Linked DNA regions of Homo sapiens. The protein of the gene in region 1 purifies or fractionates together with the protein of each later gene. This does not show direct contact. Each region holds a gene or a part of one and is shown on either strand. Other genes may lie near its edges. The genes, in order: ADIPOR2 and HACD3.

Region 1 (10,842 bases):
TTGATTTCTGTCTTCCTCTCCCTCTCAGAAAATAAAATTCCCCCAAAGTAAGGTAATAGCAACATTCTGTAAGGTTAATCTCAACAATAGTGGTCTTTTCCCAAATTCAAATTTGATGCAAAAAATTCAGTATCTTGGTCTCTCTCTGACACTAAAAGAAGCAGACTGCAGAGGTTGACAGACTTCCAGCAGTTCCAACAGAAGGGATACTGGATCCCTGATCCCCTTTCTCTTTCTCTCCATAAAGTCCTGTGGAAGATCTCATACAGCTACTTTTGTAAGTGGTAGTACTATTAGCAGCAGATGTTAAAAATATAGATTAGTCTTTTGGCATTATTTTATTTTATTGTATGTTAGAAGCAAGCATAGAATGGCCACATTAGCACCAGTAACCACAGACCCCACGTTTTGAGTTGGAAAGTGAGGGAGGAGAGGTTTTGTATGGCTGGGGGCAGGAAGAGTAGGGAAGAGGCAGGGGGCTAGTTTGGTTAGAGTGTTAAGAGGGACACATCTGTTCTTAAATTGTTAGTCCTCACTTCCTTTGGATGTGGAGATGTTACACAGAGGATTAGTTCTTTTACAAATATCTGTAAGGAAGTAAGAGAGCAGAGAACAAGAAACAGGTTGTGGAGCAAAAGGAATGGGCACAGTAGCTGGTGAGTAAGTGGCAGTCTTTCCATAGAGTAGAGAGAGAGCCAAGTTTCCATGGCTTACCCATATTGTCACAAGACCCTGTAGTGGGTAGGGTGGAGGTCATTGTCTGAAGGTGAATCTTGCTGATTTGCAGCCTGGATTCTTGCTTTATAGGGTAATAGACTGGAAGAACTGCTGAGCCCACATTAGCTGGAAGATAAACCATGTGCCTGCCATTTTTCCTTACATCTTTCTGTCTAGCAGAAGCAAGTTAGTCAAGATTAAGTGATCCTTGTGGTGTGAGCTCTCGGGGCTATGAGACATTAAAAGAAGCAGAGTGCAGAGGTTGACAGACTTCCTACAGAGGGGATATCGGATTCCTGATCCCTTTTCCTCTAGAATCTGATGCGGGAGGGACCATGAGGAAACGGGAGGAAAGGGCTCTGAGGGACTGAAAGGGTGGTTAGGGCTGAGCTTCTTTACCATCTCTCTGCAGCATGAGAAGGAAGATGGATTAGTCACTAACTGTCTGACAGGAGATAGCCCCTGGGGATAGTCATGTACTGGCTTTGAGTAGATGCCAGGGATTACTAACTAATTCATGAAATGCTTTGTGTCATTTTGTTTGATCTTCATGATTTCCCTATGAAGTAACTGAAGCGCTATTTTACAAATGAAGGAGCTGCAGGTTGGAGGTTTTTTAATTAATTAAATCTCATATAGCTAGTTAATGCCAGGGGTCCACAATTTTCTGACTCCTGTGCTCTTTCTTTTCTGCCTCATCATATTTGCATAGTGGGAAGAGAAGAAAGAGTAAGATGGAGGGAGAGATTTTAGCAAAAGGCACAAAAGTATGATTCTATGTAATTCTGTTTTTACCAATAGGAATATTAAATATAAAAATGTTCATATTAACACCACAGGGATTTATCAGAGGTAAAGTCTGTTATATAGGTAGGATGAAGGAGGTCAGTATGAGTGAGACTTTGGAACCTTCATCCCACCATTAGCCAGGTTGAAACAAAGTTTGAAACCACTCTTTTAGGGCATTTCCTATAAATTTGTTTACTCTTTCCTTTTCCTAAGGCCCCCACTTAAAAGTATATTTTTTCTTTCTTTTTTTTTTTTTTTTTTTTTGAGGCAGAGTTTTGCTCTTGTTGCCCAGGCTGGAGTGCAATGGCGTCATCTCAGCTCACCACAACCTCCGCCTCCCGGGTTCAAGCAATTCTCCTGCCTCAGCCTCCCGAGTAGGTGGGATTACAGGCATGTGCCACCACACCCGGCTAATTTTTTGTATTTTTAGTAGAGATGGGGTTCGAGCTCCTGACCTCAGGTGATCCACCCACCTTGGCCTCCCAGAGTGCTGGGATTAAAGCCTTAGCCACCATGCCCGGCAAAAATATATTTTTCATCAGTCTTTAAAGAACTCAGAATATAAGACATTATACATTTTGAGATGTTTGCCTTTTTAAAAATGAATTGTTTTTCCCATTATAAAACAGTGTGATAAGACACAGTTGTTAGGGGTCAGTGTTGGTAAATTGACAACTAAAATCACAAAGATGTTTGATAATACCTCTCTGCCAGGTATGGGAAGGTCGGTGGCGAGTGATCCCTCATGATGTACTACCAGACTGGCTCAAGGATAATGACTTCCTCTTGCATGGACACCGGCCTCCTATGCCTTCTTTCCGGGCCTGTTTTAAGAGCATTTTCAGAATACACACAGAAACAGGCAACATTTGGACACATCTCTTAGGTATGTAATGTCAGTGATGTAATGAGCTGGTGATTCACTTTCTTCCTTTTTATTTTCATGTATTTGAGGGTAAGCACAGAACTTCAGAAATGTATTTGGATTTGCCATTTTGTTTTCTGAATTTCTAATGATGAATTTTCTGACTGGTTTACTCGTAGTTTATCCTGGTTTGCACTATGATTTTGTTATAACTTAAGTTATATTTCTTTCTACTAGATTTTCAGATCTTGTCCTCAAACCAGGCCAAGTAAAAGTTGCTATACAAAATGTGGTTTCATATTGTAGTGACCACTGAGAAGAAAGTATTATTTAATAGAAGTAATCTGATCTTTTAAAATGCATTACTTATATGCACTGCTAATTTTCAGTTTGGCCTGAAGTAGAATATGGACTGTAATTTTTTCTCCATAATGATTGTATATTAAAGAAAGAATACTGTAGAGGAAAGAATAGTCTTTCCAACAAATGGTGCTGGGATAACTGAGCCATATGTAAAAGAATGATCCCGAACTCACATATGCAAAAGTGAACCCAAAATGGATCAAAGACCCAAACATAAGAGCAAAAACTATAAAATCCTTAGGAGAAAACATATATAAATCCTTGTAAGTTTGGATTAGGTGACTGTTTCTGAGAATTGCCACCAAAGAAAAAATAGATAAATTGGACTTCATCAAAATTAAAAACGTTGGTATATCAAAGTGCATTATCAAGAAAGTGAAAAGACAACCCATAGAGAAGAGAATATTTACAAATCAGCTAGTTGGTAAGGATCTAATAAATAACTCCTACAACTCAACAATAAAGACAACCGATTTTAAAAATGGGTAAAACATCTGAATAGATGTTCTTCCAGAGAAGATCTAAAATGGCCAATAAGCACATGAAAAGATGTTTGTCTTCGTTAGGCATTTAGGAAAACGCAAATCAAATGCTTTGAGAAATGCAGTGAGAAATCTCAACACTTCACACCCACTAAGATGGCTATAATCAAGAAAATGAAAAATAACAAGTCTTGGCAAGGATGTGGGGAAATTGGAACTTTCATACGTTGCCAGTAGGAATGTGAAATGGGGCAGTCCCCATGGAAAAGTCTGGCAGTTCCTCAAAAAGTTACATAGAGTTACCAGAAATCAACTCCTAGTATATTACCCAAGATGACTGAAAACATGTTCACATAAAAACATGAACACAGAAGTTTGCAGCAACATTATTCATAATAGCTAAAAAGTAGAAGCAACCCAGATGTCTATCGACTGGTAATGGAGAAACAAAATATGGTGTATTCATACACTGGAGTATTATTTAGCTGCAAAAAGGGATGAAGCACTGATACATGCCACAGCATGGGTGAGCCTTGAAAACATTTGCTAAGTGAAAGAAGCCAGACACAGAAGGTCACATGTCGTTTGATTCTACATGCATGAAATGTCCAGAACAGGAAAATCCATAAAGACAGTAGATTAGTGGTTGTTTAGGGCTGTAAGGAGTGGGGAATGGGGGATGACAGCAGATACAGTACTTCTGTTTGGGGTGATGAAAATATTTTGGAATTAGTTAGTGGTGATGGTTGTACAACCTTGTGAATATACTAGTTTCTGGCCTTACTCCATTTGATTTGCATTTCTTATCACACATTTGATTTCCATGGTGCCTCTAAGTTCCTGCCTGCTAGTATAGTGAGAGGAGAGTAGAGGGTCAAATCAAGTTTGTTGCTGACTTCTAATTCAAGGGTAATTTTTAATTAAAATGATAAAACAATTACTTAGCAAACGTTGAAGTTGAAATTTCTGTGCCTGCCTTGTGTTAGGTGGCCCCTCCCTAAGCAATAGGAACATGGCATCTTTCTGTGTAGAACAGTGTAAGAATTGGTTAGGAAATGGCCTGAGTAGGCATTTTGTCCTTAACTCTTGAATCTCCTGAACCAGCTGATGAGGGCCAGAGAAACAGCATGACACTCCCTGACAGCTATTGGTAGAGGAAAGCTGTATTTCTTGGCAGGGTTTAGGGGTATTGGAATTCATTGTAAAAACAAAAGCAAAAGCACAATGGACCTTTGAAAGCTGGACTATGAGGTATGTGCCAAAAACTGTATAAATGAAACTATTCTACATCTAGAGGTAGAAGTGGCTTCATTATATCTTCTAAGAAGTAGCAGCAGTGTCTGATTTCTTTTTAGATTATGCCCTTAGATAAGTTTTTATATTCTGTATATTCAGTTTATGAAGCTGAAGTATTTCTGATACCAACAATGTTGGAAGTAAACCACAATTTTGGATAGGCTTCAGTTATTTGGAAGATTTTTCTCATTGAACTTTTGATTCAGATATTGTTGTAATGCAGAAGGATTGAAAACAGAATCAGTTATAATACTGTCTCTTCTAAAGGGTGATATTTTATCTATTTTCTGTGCTCTTTTTCCTAGGTTGTGTATTCTTCCTGTGCCTGGGGATCTTTTATATGTTTCGCCCAAATATCTCCTTTGTGGCCCCTCTGCAAGAGAAGGTGGTCTTTGGATTATTTTTCTTAGGAGCCATTCTCTGCCTTTCTTTTTCATGGCTCTTCCACACAGTCTACTGCCACTCAGAGGGGGTCTCTCGGCTCTTCTCTAAGTAAGTATCTGTAAAGTCCGTATTTTGGCCAATGATTTAGAGGTAGTGCGTTAGGGAAAAACATTCAGCAGAGTTGGCAGAATTCTTAATATCATCTCATGCAAACTTTTTTTTTTTTAAAAATTAAAGAGCAACCCAGTTTGGCTCTTAGGTGTCGTTGATGGCTTATGTCATGAGGGATTAATTGGAACCTGTAGTGGCCAGTAGTTTTTAAATTACTGCATTAAATGGATTTTTTTTTTCTGTCATAGACTGGATTACTCTGGTATTGCTCTTCTGATTATGGGAAGTTTTGTTCCTTGGCTTTATTATTCTTTCTACTGTAATCCACAACCTTGCTTCATCTACTTGATTGTCATCTGTGTGCTGGGCATTGCAGCCATTATAGTCTCCCAGTGGGACATGTTTGCCACCCCTCAGTATCGGGGAGTAAGAGCAGGTAAGAGCACGGGGAGGTTCTACATTCGACATTCATTTATTCACTAGTTAAATTCACTATTTATTAAAGTTCTACCATTTGCCAAACATTATGCTGTGTATTTGTGATGCCAAGATGAAGAAATCATAGTTCCTATTGTTGGGGGTTTTTTTATGTAGTAGTCGTAGTAGTTGTTGTTGTTAGTAGTGTTTATTAATTGTCTTAAAGCATTAGGGTTGAGGGGTCATGGTGAGTATGAGGTGATATAATTTGGGACTGTTACTTACTTGAATTTATGGCTAAACACCATCCAGAAAGCGGTAGTCTATAACTTTTGTAAACAATGATTTCTCTTACTCATTGTGGAGTGTACTTTTTGTAGTGATTCTTTTTTTGTTGTCATTTTCTGTTTTGTTTTATATTTTTATTTTATAATGGATAATCTGCTTAAGGCTTCACCCCCATGCTGATTATGTTTTGTTAAAGTGGGCACCATATCTCCCTTCTGATGTAGGGATAAAGGGGCTTTTTATATTTAGGATAATGCCTGTTTAGCTGGAGATCATAGAGAAAGCCACAAGCCCCTCAGTGCCTTGGCTGAGTCTTCTTGTAGGACATGGAATTAGCAGAGATGTTCTTGTCTCCTACTCAGTGTCAAGCTCAGTGCCCACTGAGAATGAACAAGGAGTGTTTTTCCTTTCGTCCTTAAACCCCCAAAACCATTTAGTATTAAAATCTAAACCCTGGATCATCCGGGGGTACCTGGAAGGTTAGACACAGAAGTAACCTCATGTCAGTGACCACTGTTAAAACACTCTGCCGTCCTCCTTTTTGTGTTCATATGAGCAAATGAGCATTGGTCAGGGTCAGCTTTCAACAGTACTTGAGTAGTACAGTGGTGTTAAGCCTGCTTGAGCACATGAGATAAGAATGTCTTTGCTGAGTACAGCTGAGCATTCTGTTATTTACATACATCAGAAGAACCAAATTCCTGAGCCTTTGACTTAGAGAATGATAGGCAGAAACCATTAGCAGCCTTTGCTTAGCATGTAGAGGAAAAGAAAAAGTGAATAGTGCAAAAGTCTAGCAAATCTTTCCTTAGAGGAGCAGAGGTAGGAAATAGTTTTTCTTTAGGTCTGCTTGGTTCTTACCTGTTGTGAGAGCAGCATTGCCATTTTCCTCTTCTCTTTTAGATGTCCATTTTATTTGTGAGTATGCATCCCATAGCTGTGCTTACATATATTGCTGTATACCAGCAGTTTATTTGGTAATGTCCAAAGCAAGTAATAGGTTCTTTATCTGTTGAGAAAGCTTACCAAATGACAGCTTGTTTTGCAAGGGTCATTGTTAACTCTGTGTCAAAATGTAGGAGCAGTTACTGGCAGAGGCAGGGAGCTCCTGTGTTGCTTTGGCTGATACACGGGTTTCAAAGTGGATTTAGATCAGTGGACTTCACATTTTTTTTTCCATCATGACATTTTCTATTACAGTCCTGAACACGTGTATCTATACATAAGTTCATGTATATATAAATTACAAAACTTTAACAAAATAGTATTTAATCCTCCACGTATGTTACAGTCTGATATTTTAAATTTTATTCTAGTTCATTTAAAAAAATGCTGGTTGAGACTCATTTAATTGATCTTAGAACTTAGGTCATATCCAGAAGTTTAAAAAAACATTAGATGCTTCTGGAGGCAGTAAGGCAGTAGGGCTGTGGCTGAGTGATTTGCTAGACTTTTGTACTTGATTGCTATTTAGGGGTCTGGGAGCTTATAGTATTCTCTCCCATCCCCCACCCCCATTAGGTCATTTGTTAAAGGCATTTAACAATTTTTAAGTGCCCAGTTATAGGTTATAGATTTAGATTAAATTTTTTCTTCTTTTTTCTTTTCTTTTCTTTTTCTTTCTTTCTTTCTTTTTTTTTTTTTTTTTTTTTTTTTTGAGATGGAGTCTTGCTTTGTAGCCCAGGCTGGAGTGCAGTGGTGCCATCTTGGCTCCTGACCTCAAGTGATCTGCCTGCCTCGGCCTCCCAAAGTGCTGGGATTACAGGTGTGAGCTGAGCCACTGCGCCCAGCCTTAGATTCCTATTAAAAATAGGTGATGCCAGGTGATGTGATCATTCATCGCCTCTCCACCCCAACAACGCCTGCTGCTTCAAAGAGAAGATGGGATACGTAAAATTGCTTGTATTGTAACCTGTGTCTGTAGAAGGACAGGCTAGGACAGTTTAAATAAACTCCTGGAGCTGTCCTTTCCGAAAACATTTAGCAACATTAATTCAAAACCCTTGAAGACTGCTGACTTACTAAGCTAAGCCTCTCTTAGTGAGGCTCATTGCTTTTTTTTTTTTTTTTTGAGACGGAGTTTCACTCCTGTTGCCCAAGCTGGGGTGCAATGGCGTGATCTCGGCTCACTGCAGCCTCTGCCCCCGGCTTCAGGTGATTCTCCTGCCTCAGCCTCCCGAGTAGCTGGGATTACAGGAGTGCGCTACCACGCCTGGCTACTTTTTGGATGTTTAGTAGAAATGGGGTTTCACCCTGTTAGCCAGGCTGGTCCCAAAGTGCTGGGATTACAGGTGTGAGCCACTGCACCCGGCTGGCTCCTTGCATTTGTAAATCTTTAGAACATAGCTGTGTTGTCTTGTGTGACAGTGTCCCAGAGTTTGAAGAACCTTCTTTTTCCTTTAAAACTGGAAGCTAATTTTATATGCTACTTTGAAATATTCAGTTTACAGAGTTAATGGTGCTGTGCTGTAATACTGACTTCTGGCTCTTTGTTTCTCTTCTGCATTACTTTACTCTCTTCTTGTGACTCCTAGGAGTGTTTTTGGGCCTAGGCCTGAGTGGAATCATTCCTACCTTGCACTATGTCATCTCGGAGGGGTTCCTTAAGGCCGCCACCATAGGGCAGATAGGCTGGTTGATGCTGATGGCCAGCCTCTACATCACAGGAGCTGCCCTGTATGCTGCCCGGATCCCCGAACGCTTTTTCCCTGGCAAATGTGACATCTGGGTAAGTATGTCGGGGTGACTGAGTGTGTAGGTATCTGCTCATGAGTTATTGGCATCCTGCAGAGTGATGCAATAGAAAAAGTTTTAGACACAAAGTCAGGAGAGTTGTATCCTGGTCCTAACTCCCTATTGAGCTTTCTCTGGACAATAAGTACAATAATAACTAACATTTAGTGAGCACTTCCTTGGTGCTCAGCATGGTACAGAGTGCTTTGCACGGATTACCTCATTACATACATTAGCCCTATGTGGTATGATAACTCTTGTTAATGTCTTCATTTTACAAAGCAGGAGACTAAGGCTTAGGGAGGTGAGGCCACTTGTCCAAGCCATGTGGCTATTTAAGTGGTAGAACAGGAATTTGAATTAGGCTAGTTTTAATATCAGAATCTGTGCTCTTTTTGACAATGGCAAGTCATTTTGCCATTCTTTGTCTCAGTTTCCTTATTTATGAAATGAGGATGATAGACCAGATTTTCACCAGAGCCCTTTTTAGGACCAGATTTCTATCAGGGTCTTTTTTTATACCGAAATTTAGTGATTTGTAATGGGAGACTGAGTGTATGTATGTCTGGTGGAAGAAGAGGGATTGTGAAGAAGAGGGAACTGGATTGAACTGGATTGTGGTCATTGGTAAGAGAGGAGGAAAGAGAAGAGGGAAAAGAAAATATAAGGACTGATATAGATAGAAAAACTTATAACCAAAGAGGGCCTGAAATATTTTCAACAAGACAACATTGGAAATACGCTTAATGTGAAATCTGACCTTTGTAATTCTGTTCCTCAGCCTATTGCTGATTATTATAGACTAACCTGATGATCTCATCTCTTTAAAGTTTAGTTTAGCTATCTGTAAAATGAAGATGATCTTGAACTTAAGCAATCTTTCTAGCTTCAAATTAGCTAATTTATCTTTCTGATTCATCATCATCATTTTAACATTGGTATGGAGGGGTTTTTGCCCTTTATCCCCTTTCTTTGGGGGAAATTAATCCCCTTTGGTTTCCTAGGAAACATCTCTTGGGATGTGACTTGATTTCTTCTAGTTTTTGCTTCTAAAATCAGTGTTTTTCTCTTGATAAATACTGCTTTGCCACTGTACTTTTTCATTTTGAGATTATAATGACAGAATAGTGTAATTTTTGAAGTGCAGCGAGCAATTGATTACCCTTCTTGAGATGTGGAATAGCATTCAACAGAACAGGTAAAATCAGAAATAATGTCACTTGCTTGTAGACCAGCTTCTGACTTGAGAAGTAAAAGGGCCTGTTTGCTTAGTTTTTGACACATTATGTAGTTCATGAAATTTGAGAATCGTAGCACTGAAGGAAACTCTGGGGACCATATGTTGTGACATTCCACACACCATCCTGGAAGCCTCTTTAGTTTTTCTAACAGAGAGCAACATTTAAATGACCATAGCTCTAGTCCTCTTGTCCATGACAAAATGTCCATCAGCAGTGAGTAGGAAAAGGACTGTATGTGTAATCATAGCCCATGGCTAGGTGTCAAGGGATCCTTGGGACCTTTGTGGCCTGTTAGCAAGAGAGTCTGTGTGTCATTTGCCACTTTAGCAAGAGAGTCTGTGTGTCATTTGCCACTGGTTTCAGTGTTAAGTTTGTAGATTTTTATGTGTAGAGCTTAGTGGCAGCACCTTGGTTTCTTTGGGAACAGCTGGCTTTCAGCTCAGCAGAATGTGTTACACCTAATGGATGTTCCAGGATCTGTGGACGCCTTGAATTTGAGCTCTGTCACATCCATTCCCTGCCTTCTGCTCAGCATAAACCAGGATTAAACGATCCTAAGAATCTTTAGCAGTCTTAATAATGTATGGGTTTCTCTACCCCCTTCTCTTCTTTTTTCCCCTCCAGTTTCACTCTCATCAGCTGTTTCATATCTTTGTGGTTGCTGGAGCTTTTGTTCACTTCCATGGTGTCTCAAACCTCCAGGAGTTTCGTTTCATGATCGGCGGGGGCTGCAGTGAAGAGGATGCACTGTGATACCTACCAGTCTCCAGGGACTATGACCCTAAACCAGGGCCTGCGGCACTTGCGGGCCTCCCTGCTGGCTACTGATGCCAGTACCAGAGGAGCCCCAAAACTTTGACAGCCTCGTGGGCTTTGTGACGGCCCAGTGGCTCTGCGTGGTACATGACTGAGAAGAGAAAAACAAAAATAAATCATACCTCAAAGGATGGAGTGCATCAATTGGGAGAAAAGGAGACATAGCCCAAACCCTGGCTTATTCTTGGGATCTACTGATTGCGGGCTCTGCAAGACCCTTGGCAAACTGGCTTCTGATCCATATCATATTTATTTGTAGAAGATGGCGAAACAGTTTAGCTGGTGGTTCTTTCTTCTCCCTTTCTCTCTCTCTATGACAATAATACAAACCAATTTAAGT
Region 2 (10,954 bases), on another chromosome or scaffold:
GAGTCAGGTACTTTGAAGGATGAAGGGGTGGGACAGGAGCTTTATGCTGAATAGATTGGCTAAACATACATATGCAACAGGTTATAGGAGGAGGTATGAATATTCATGAAGGTGGTCCTGAAGCACGAATATTGAAGAAACATGTATGTTACATATGACCCATGTTCACCTTGCAGTGGAGACTTAACACTTAAATGTATTACAATTTGACCTATATGTCAAAAGGTCTTTTCAGGACACAAAGGCACTCAAATGTACAGCCTCTGTAAACTAGACAGAACTCGTCCGTGGTTGATAGTCTTCTTATCAGCAGAAGGTTACTGAAATAAGTCTCTTGTCCAATCAAAGCTATAGTTATGGCTTGTGGAACAAGGGGTCAGTTGGCCAGTGTCTGGTGAGGGGTAAGCTAGAAATTTTAATATTGATTATCTTAAGGCTAGTGCTTGTTTAGCTGCTAGAGAAAGAAAAACCTTGTGGCAGTTAAACATGGTTTATTCTTTAAGTGTAGGGGTGTGTGACTTAACTCTTGCCTAGCATGGCTTTAGGTCTTATTTATAATTTGGTATCATATTGCCACAAAGAGTCCGTTCCATCAGTCTTTAAACACATTATTTTTTATTATTTTTTGTTGTTGTTCCATCAGTCTTATGCTCTCTATTTTCACATTAATGCTGGTCAGTTGTTGTGTCTCAACCGCAAAAGGGAGGGGGTATAAGGAGGCATATGTGACCTCCCATCCCGTCATGACCTGGAACTCAGTTTTTAAGGTTTTTCTGGTGTCCCCTTGGCCAAGAAGGGGTCTGCTCAGTCAATTGTGAGGCTTAGGATTTCATTTTTAGTTCACACTTCTGAACTGTGGATTGACAGGTAGAGGGGAAGGTTTTCCCAGTAAAGATGGCCTACAATACCCATTCTCCAGGCAGAGTTGGGAGGCTACATGTGTATGATCTGGCTGTGGAGGATTCCCCATTAGATACCTGCACTGATCCAGTCAGTCTCCCTCTCCACACTTAGCTTTGTACCATCTAGAGAAACCTGACTTTGCTCAGGGATAACTGGCTGGGTGACCCTGGGTGGTTTGAATCCAGCCAAATTCTACAGCTCATTTTCTAAAACCTCTTCCAGAATAGAAGATTTTATACATAGATAACAACAAGGATGTGTATGACCCCTTGCCAAAGGCAGGAAATCAGCCTTCAGCCCTGGGAATGAGCTTAATCCATGGCAAGTACTCAGCAAATGCTTCCTGTAGTTAGTGGTGACTATTCTCTGAGAAGGGAGAGCTGGCCCTTGGCCAAATGAGGCTGGGAAGGCTGCATCTAGAAGGTAGGACAAAAAGACAAGGCTAAATTTGCATTTTCATTTGACCGATAGTATCATAAAACTCTTAGCCCTACCTATTTCAGCTTGGCACTGCCACTTGGCTCTGCCTTTTAATCTCCCCTGCCACCTTCCAGCGTATTTTGGTTTGCTTTTTTTTTTTTGAGACAAGGTTTTGCTCTGTTGTCCAGGCTGGAGTGCATCGGTGCCATCACAGTTCACTGCATCTCTGACCTTCCAAGCTTAAGAGATCCTCCCAGCCTCCTTAGTAGCTAGGACTACAGGCACATGCCACCGTACCTGGCTAATTTTTAAAATTTTTTATAGAGATGGGGTCTCACTGTTTTGCCCAGGCTGGTCTCGAACTCTTAAACTCAAGCGATCCTCCCACCTCAGCCTCCCAAAGCATTGGGATTACAGCATAAGCCACCATGTCCAGCCCCACCCTGGAGTTTTATAGTTCACCAGAATGATACTCTTTCTTCTCTCCATTTCTATTTTTTTTCTTGTTAGATTTCTCTTGCAGAGAGGGGTCCATAATAGTGGGGTCTCTTTGCAGAAAAATTTAGAAACAGCTGATAAGAGCATTAGAGGGAACCAAATCCAACTCATCAAATTTACCTAATTTGATGAATGTGGAAACTCAGGCCTAAAGAAGTCATTTTGCAGTATGTTACTAGTGGTCAAACCAGGCTGGATAGGCCCACTTCCACTGGACCTTTCTTATGAAGCATCTGAGGCAAAATGCCAACATTCAGTCTTCTTCTATATCAATAGCTTTCACCTTGGTAGAAGTCAGCTGATAAGCCTCAGGTTTCAAATACGCTGAATTAAAATTATTCTATTTTTTATTACCCACCTACCAGGATGGCTAAAATTAAAAACATTGGCTGGGGGTGGGGGTGGTGCTGGAAAAAAAAAATTAGGCTGGGTGCTGTGGCTCACGCCTGGGAGGCTGCAGCAGGAGGATCACTTGAGCCCAGGAGTTTGAGACCATTTGAGCCTAGAAGTTTGAGACCAGCATGGCCAACATGGTGAAACCCCATCTCTACTAAAAATAAAAAAATTAGCCAGGTGTGGTGGTGCACACCTATAATCCCAGCTACTTGGGAGGCTGAGGTAGGAGAATCATTTGAACTGCGGAGGTAGAAGTTGCAGTGAGCTGAGATCGCGCCAATGCACTCCAGCCTGGGCAACAGAGCAAGACTCTTTCTCAAAAAATAAAATAAAATAAAATAAAATAAAATTAAATTAAAAAGTCTGAAAATACTAGGGATATAGAGCAACTAGAACTTTCAAACATTGCCGTGGAATGTAAATTGACCAAAACACTTTGTAAAACTGCTTAGCACACCTACTAAAGCTAATCATACACCTGTGTAACCTAGCAATTCCCTTCATAGGTATTTATTCCAAGATAATTAAGAGCATTTATCCCCAAAAGACAGGTACACAAATATTCAGAGCAGCTTTATTTGTAATAGCTAAAAACTAGAAACAACACAAATATCCATCGATAGGAGAATGGATAAATAATTTGTGGTATACTCATATAGTCAACTACTACAGAGCAAAACCAAAAACTAAAAGAATGAATTACTGATTCACTCAGCAACATGGATAAATCTCATACACATTATGTTGATGAAAGAAACCAAGGCCCGGTGCGGTGGCTCACATCTGTAATCCCAGCACTTTGGGAGGCTGAAGCGGGTGGATCATGAGGTCAGGAGTTCAAGACTAGCCTGGCCAAGATGGTGAAACCCCGTATCTACTAAAATACAAAAATTAGGGGCCAGGCACGGTGGCTCATGCCTGTAATCCCAGCACTTTGGGAGGCTGAGGCAGGCAGATCACGAGGTCAGGAGTTAGAGACCATCCTGACCAACATGGTGAAACCCCGTCTCTACTAAAAATACAAAAATTAGCTGGGCGTGATGGCGGACAGCTGTAATCCCAGCTACTTGGGAGGCTGAGGCAGGAGAATCGCTTGAATTGGGAGGCCGAGGTTGCAGTGAGCCGAGACTGCACCACTGCACTCCATCCTGGGTGACAGAGCAAGACTCTGTCTCAAAAAAAAAAAAAAGAAAAAAGAAAAAGAAACCAGACACTGTAGGTTCCATTTATATAAAATTCAAGAACAGAACAGACAAAAAAGACTCTATGGTGATATATCAGGATAGTAATTACTGAGAGGCAAAGATATTTTAACATGAAATAACCTCTGGGATACTGGAAATATTCCAGATCTTGATCTAGGTGATAATTACATGGATATATACATATAGAAAAATTCAGCTTAAACTGAATATTTAAGATTTACCCATGTTCTATATGTAAACTACATCTCAATGTTTTTAAAAAGTGCCCCATATTGCATCTGCATTGTAGTAAACACAATACAATAAAATACCTTTATCATAAAAAATATTTTATCGTTAAAATTCAAGACTGTCAACGTCACTGCTTTCATCAACTCATTCTTGGCAGATTGCATTGGTCTCCCATTGCTTTGCCTACTACCAATTCCTCCTCCTCTCTGACAGGTCTTTCTTGCTGAGCACATTTGATTTTACTAATCTCCAGGTTAACAAACTTCCTTGGCTCCCATGTGTCTGTGGGATACAGTATAGGCACCTCAGTGAAGCAAACAAAGACTTTCCTAATGCACCCTCTGCCTTTCCAGATTCAGGGCGACCTCTCTCCTCTATGCCTTTAATCCCTAGCAGCAGAACCTCCTTCCACAACCCTCTCTCTTTTTTAAATTTTAAGACAGGGCCTCACACTGTCACCCAAGCTGGAGTGCAGTGGCGCGATCTCGCCTCCTGGGCTTAAGCAATTCTCCCACCCTAGCCTCCCGAGTAGCTCGGACCCCAGGGGCGCGCCAACCACGCCCTGCTAACTGTTGTATTTTTTGTAGAGACAGTGTATTGCCATTTTTCCCAGGCTGGTCTCAAACTCCTGGGCTCCAGCGATCCTCCCGCCTCGTCCTCCCAAAGTGCTGGGATTACACGCGTGAGACGCTGCACCTGGTCCACATCTTTTCACCTGTGAACGAAGCAAGCGCCCTGTGCTTCCACGGCCTACCTGGTTCTTACTCAGTCAAATTCCTACTCGCATTTCACCATCCCGTTCTCAAGGGTTGGCTCTCAAATGTCTGACAATGGTTCCCACGGCCCTCAGTTCCTATCATCATAAACTCTTTGTGAGCTCAGCACATTCATTATATGAAAACTCTCTATATTTTATTCTGTCCACTCTTGAGCTAAATGTTTCCAGAGAGCTAGCAGAATTTGTTTTCAGCGTTAGATCCCTCTGCTAAACAAACGGGTGCTAATAGAATCACTTTGCTAAATAAATGGGAGCTAACAGGATTGAATATGAGTTCCATTTTTGTCCCAGAGTTCTAGTTTTCATATAAATATTTCTTCCCATTAAATTCTTCTCTGCAGAAGAACTTGGGGATGAAACCCGATACAGACAAGACAGCTTAAGTAAGACATAAATGAGTGTTGTCTCTAGTTTGAGTTTCCTATTTTTTTGAGACAGTCTCCTGCACTGTCCAATAGAATAGCCACCAAAAATATGGATATTTAAGTTTAAATTAGAAGTGAATAAAGTTGGCCGGGCGCGGTGTCTCACGCCTATAATCTCAGCACTTTGGGAGGCCAAGGCGGGCGGATCACCTGAGGTCGGGAGTTCGAGACCAGCCTGACCAACATGGAGAAACCTCGTCTCTACTAAAAATACAAAATTAGCCGGTGGCGCATGCCTGTAATCCCAGCTACTCGGGAGGCTGAGGCAGGAGAATCACTTGAACCCGGGAGACAGAGGTTGCGGTGAGCCGAGATCGCGCCATTGCACTCCAGCCTGGGCAACAAGAGAGAAACTCCGTCTCAAAACAAAACAACAACAACAACAAAAAAAAAACAGAAGTGAGTAAAATTGAAAATTCGGTTATTCAGTTCAAGTACTCAAAAGCCTCATGTGGCTAGTGGCTACCGTATTAAAGAGCGCAATGTGCAATATTTCCATCATCACCTACAGTTTTATTGGGCAGCGCTGCCCTGGTCTTTATTTTCCCTTGTTGGAACGCTCTTCCACGCTGCTCCCACACCATGTCCCCTATCACCATTATTATCCTCATTTCATCTGTAATTACTTGCATCTTTTAATAGGCTGGGAGTTCTAAGACAGAAGGGACTGTGTCTCACTTCTGTTGTTCCAGTGTTTAGCTTTGAAACCCAGGCACACAGTAGGTACTCAGTAAACAGAATGCGAAGGACCGTCCAGAGACACCAGTCCCAAACCCTTTTCCAGGCTGATCGGTCCCCCATAAGTCTCCAGCCTTTTTTATTTTAAAGCTTATTTTAAAGCATGTCCCTGAAGACGAGTGGGGAGAGCAGACCACCCGCTGATTCCAATTCCCTAGGCGGCCGCGGCGAGCTGCGGCGTCTCTGTGCCCCGGCCTGCCCCTATCCCGCCTGCGCCCCGCCCCCGCCCGGCTCGCGCCAAGGCCCGCTGCTGGCGCCGCCGCCATCCCGGCGCGTCACTGCGCAGGCGCGGCCCGCGAGCGTGGGGTATCTCGAGGTGCCGGGTTGCAGGCGCTCAGGAGCGCTAGGGTTTGAGGCCTGCTTTCTGCTCGCGCCAGCAGAGCACTACCTGAGGCAGCGAGGCGCAGCGAGCCTAGCCTCCCCGCGCCCTGGGCAGTGTGGCCATGGAGAATCAGGTGTTGACGCCGCATGTCTACTGGGCTCAGCGACACCGCGAGCTATATCTGCGCGTGGAGCTGAGTGACGTACAGGTAAAGGCCGGGTCGGGCGGCGGGAAGCGCGCGGGATCGCGGCTCCGGGTACCCGCCAGGACCCCTGCCCCCTTTGTCCGCGTGCGCGCCGGAGAGCCTGCAGTGCGCCAACAAGGTCGGCGACGCGGTGCGCTTACGGCGTGCTGGCGCTTTTCGAGGCTCATCTGCAGATCTCGGGCCGGGGGCACAACCCCCCGAGGGCTGCAGGAACCTTCGGGTCCCCAGAGAGCTCGGCCTGGGCCTCTCAGGCTACCCCGGGCCTCTTCTTTGTTCGCAGTCGGCGGCCTTCATGGAGCCCAGGCCCGGCCCTGGCTGCCTGGCCGTCGGGGTTCGAGTTGGCTGGGGCCCTTCGAGATGTGGGATGAGCTTGTTGGGTCAGGGGTGCGGTTGTGACAGCGGCTTGCTGGGCCGTAGCTGAATGCCTGCCGCTGGCCTGAGAGGTCCAGCCAGGCCCCTCGGACGTTACTGAGGCTGGGCGCTGCCGGAGGTGGGGGAGGGGGAGGGGTGGGGGGCCACACCCACCTCGCAACCGTTCAGTGATGGAAATCATTCTCATTACTTTTAATTTTAAAATTCACAAGAGCTGGAGGAAGTGATTTCCCCCTCTGTTCTGAAGGTTGTGAGCTCAGGTTTGCTGAGTTGCACAGAGAACTTAAAAAGTTCTTAAGTTACATTAAGCATTTCTGTTTGAGCTCCTTGGCCCTTAATGTAAGCAAGCTGAAGGCACGTAGTAGTGGAGACTCCAGGACCTGTGTATCCTCATGTCTCTGTCCAAACTAAAGATTCTGGGCTTTGAGAAACTGGAATTTTCATTCTGGAAGGTTCTTTCTTTCTTTCTTTCTTTTTTTTTCTTTTCTTTTTTTTGAGACGGTGTTTCGCTCTTGTCGCCCAGGCTGGAGTGCAATGGCGCGATCTCGGCTCACCGCAACCTCTGCCTCCCGGGTTCAAGGGATTCTCCTGCCTCAGCCTCCCGAGTAGCTGGGATTATAGACGCGTGCCACCATGCCCGGCTAATTTTTGTATTTTTAGTAGCGACAGGGTTTCACCATGTTGGCCAGGCTGGTCTCGAACTTCTGACCTCAGGTGATCCACCCGTCTCGGCCTCCCAAAGTGCTGGGATTACAGGCATGAGCCACCGCGCCCAGCCTCTGGAAGGTTCTTTCTACAGTCATTCTTATTGGAAACTTCTCCTTAACATCTATGGCACTTTGTCATCTCTTTCACTCCATTTAACTCTCTCTGCCTCTGAACAGGCATCTGCTTGGATCACCCGTGGATCCGGTAAAATGTAGGTGCTTTCTGAGTGTCGACTTGAATTTATTGAATTTAATATAATCTTTGCTTCTGGAATATAAACAGTTTTCCTGTTGAAAGATGAAGACAGTAGTGGCCAGAATGCCTTTAAATAGGCTATGACATTGCATGGTGTGTCGTTTAATGTGTTCATCCAGACTGAGGCTATACTTTTGGGTCAGAGTATGAGTAAATGTTCTGTGCTGTCTCCCTCTACTGCTCCACGGTGGTTTAATAGAATAGGAAAAAACAAACAAAATCTTTTGTAGATGGGGATCAAAGTCCCCGTCTAGAGAGGGTTCTTCCAGCAGTCAATAAAAAAGTACGGAACAGGCCAGGTGCTGTGGCTCACGCCTGTAATGCCAACACTTTGGGAGGCCGAGGCGGGAGGATCACCTGAGGTCAGGAGTTCGACACCAGCCTGACCAACATGGAGAAACCCCATCTCTACTAAAAATACAAAATTAGCCGGGCATGGTGGTGCATGCGTGTAATTCACTATGTTGGCTACTCGGGAGGCTGAGGCAGGAGAATTGCTTGAACCCGGGAGGCGGAGGTTGCGGTGAGCTGAGATGGTGCCATTGCACTCCAGCCTGGGCAACAAGAGTGAAACTCTGTCTCAAAAAAAAAAAAAAAAAAGTAACCATCTAAAAATTTTTGGGGAAAAATAAATCATTTTTCCCCCTTATTGAGTTTTTGTTTTCTCTGGGGTTTCACATCTGTAGTTTTGAGGCACCCATATTTCAACTACCATTAGTTTAAAAGCATGATGTTACCCTCATAAAAGAGTGTTTACATGTGTTAGCAATCCTCTAACACATGTAAGGTAGTACAGATTTACAAAGGTGAGTCAGACCCAGCTTTTCAAGGGCATGCTATCTAGAAGGAGGCGTATCATATACAAACAAAAAGTTTTGTGTAGGAGTATGTTTATTGGTAGAATTGGAGTTGGATGTTGAACCAGGTATCTGGTGTTAAAGGAATTTGTTACCTTTCTTTCATTTAGTTAGTGATGACTTCCAGAAATGAGAATTATTTTTGTCAAACTAAGACTGGGAGAATGTTCCAGAAAGAGAAAGGCATAGACTTTTAGACACTTGTAATCTCTGACTTAAGCCGTGTCAATGCCCAAAGGCCACCAATAACACACCCGTAGTTAAACAAGTTGGGTTTATTACTCATTGCATTGAGAGAGCATACTCCATGGGGAACCCTGGGGTGTTTCATTAGGAGGGTGTTAGAACTGATTATAGGATTTGGGTGTTGGTGATTAGGGGAGGGGAGGGTTAAGGAGGTTGGGTTTCACTTCAGATAAGATCCTGTAAGAAAATATGGGAGTTTCGTGGTTGGGTATCTGAATAAATCTTACCTGTAGGGCAGGGAGACTAGTATAAGAACAAAACTGTAATTGCTACAGGAGTAGCAGTCACTCAATTTGGCCAAAGGGTGTTTGGTATTTCGTGAGTGGCATAGCCACTATGTATTTGTCTGTGCTTATAACAAAATTGTGAAATGGCCTTTGTCTCATTTTATGAGGATTTCAGAGTAACCTTGTCTGAGGTTGGTATTCTGTGAGATTGTTTATGTCCCATAGGAGAATAACATGGCCTGGCTGTGAGTGCTATGCCTGCTTCTGGAGTGTCACGGGTTGCCTTTTTTTTTTCTTTCTCAACTGATTGCTCTATGCAGGGCCTGTTGAAACCAGTGGTTTTACATGTGCAGATTTGTTATTTAAAAAAAAAAAAAAGAAAGAAAAGCAGCCGGGTGTGGTGGCTCATGCCTGTAATCCCAGCACTATGGGAGGCCGAGACGGGCGGATCATGAGGTCAGGAGATCGAGACCATCCTGGCTAACACGGTGAAACCTCGTCTCTACTAAAAATACAAAAAAATTAGCCAGGCGTGGTGGCGGGCGCCTATAGTCCCAGCTACCAGGAGGCTGAGGCAGGAGAATGGCGTGAACCCGGGAGGTGGAGCTTGCAGTGAGCCGAGACTGCGCCACTGCACTCCAGCCTGGGGGACAGAGCGAGACTCCGTCTCAAAAAAAAAAAAAAAGAAAAGAAACCAGTGGTTCTGGCTCTGGATGAAGCACTTCATTTATTTGTTCAGTAAAAATCGTTTATGGAGTACCTACTCTTGTCTATCATTAAGCTAGGTGTGGGGTTCTTGGACAGCACTTTAACACTCTCTGCTTTCTATAGCATGACCCACAGCTTATGTGTAAGTGTGAGTTTTAAAGTGTTAAGTTCCAGTTTGGAGGCATTGGCTCTGTCTCCCTCCATCCTGACACAGGGAACTGTCCAGTCATCACATCTCTATTCTGTCTTGGATGCTGCAGGGCTAGTGACTATGAGAGAACACGGCTGATGTGAGGAGAAATGGTGGACAATAAAGACTTCAGCAGTGGCATCGTCTGTGCTTGAGGTGAACGGTAGCAAAGAGGCCAGCTAAAGCAGGGTTACTTTCAAGATTGAATTTACTTTCACGATGAACATAATGAACGTGTTTGTCCCGAGAAACATAGTTGTTAAAGCATTGGTTTATTTACAAGGTGCTTGTTTGTTTTGGGTGTTGTGAGCAGAGAACAGAGCGTAGCTGTGTTTGAGAGCTGTTTGAAAGATATTGTTCCTGTCCTTACCTAACAGAGTCTGGTGGAAAGAGTGCTAACTGAACACATGAGATTGGGTCCTTGTTCTTATTACACTTATGCTCTAGTGACCATGATTCACTTAACCTTTATGAACCTGACGCTCTTCATCCAGACAGATATGAACAGTAGTGCCTAACTCATAGGACCATTTTGAGATTTGAATTGGAAAATGGATTTGAAAGTGCTTTGCAAATTCTAGTGTGCAGTTCAAGTGAGTGATTATGATGATTGCGATATTAAACCTTAGATGAGAGGGATGGTCACAGAGCAATGGAAGAATAGAGCCTATTAGCAGACCTATTCATATATGAAAAGTTAAGGTATGACAAGAGGCGCTCTTACAAATTAATGAGGAGAGAATGACCCATTCAGGAAATTGTACTGGGACAATTGGTAATCCAAATGGCAAAAAGAAAATAAGATCCTGCCTTATGCCATACACAAAAATCAGTTTCAGGTGCATTAATGACCTAAACGCATAAAGAAAAACTACTAAAAAGAAATATAGGAGACTATCTTTATAATATTGGAAAGGGGGAGAATGTGTTAAGCAAGATGCACAAAACACAAACCCTAAAGACAAAGATTGGCACATTTAAGACAAACTTGAAGAAGACATTTGCAGTGCATATCATTGAGAGATGACTAATATCACGACTATTTAAAGAACACCTACAGACCAATAGGCAAAAGACGTATTACCTAATAGAAAAAGGGGCAGATAATATAAACATTTCAGAGTAAAAGGAAACAAGAATGACCAATAAGTCTGAAAAGATGCTTGACTGCAATTATGACCAGGCACATGTACAGGCATACCTTGTTTTATTGTGCTTTGCTTTATTGTGCTTTGCAGATAATGCGGTTTTGACAAATTGAAGGTTGTGG

Evidence for each region.
Region 2: the proteins of ADIPOR2 (region 1) and HACD3 purify together in Homo sapiens (affinity purification with mass spectrometry, with the first as the bait; 2 studies listed by BioGRID). This does not show direct contact.

What each region holds. Positions count from the first base shown.
Region 1 is NC_000012.12:1,775,634-1,786,475, forward strand, and holds part of ADIPOR2 (adiponectin receptor protein 2), read left to right. Parts: intron 1-2,220; coding exon 2,221-2,392; intron 2,393-4,817; coding exon 4,818-5,004; intron 5,005-5,255; coding exon 5,256-5,443; intron 5,444-7,378; coding exon of another isoform or gene 7,379-7,477; intron 7,478-8,246; coding exon 8,247-8,440; intron 8,441-10,310; coding exon 10,311-10,439; 3' UTR 10,440-10,842. UniProt on the Homo sapiens protein: Receptor for ADIPOQ, an essential hormone secreted by adipocytes that regulates glucose and lipid metabolism. Required for normal body fat and glucose homeostasis.
Region 2 is NC_000015.10:65,524,595-65,535,548, forward strand, and holds the start of HACD3 (very-long-chain (3R)-3-hydroxyacyl-CoA dehydratase 3), read left to right. Parts: upstream 1-5,868; 5' UTR 5,869-6,037; coding exon 6,038-6,124; intron 6,125-6,199; exon of another isoform or gene 6,200-6,239; intron 6,240-10,954. UniProt on the Homo sapiens protein: Catalyzes the third of the four reactions of the long-chain fatty acids elongation cycle. This endoplasmic reticulum-bound enzymatic process, allows the addition of two carbons to the chain of long- and very long-chain fatty acids/VLCFAs per cycle.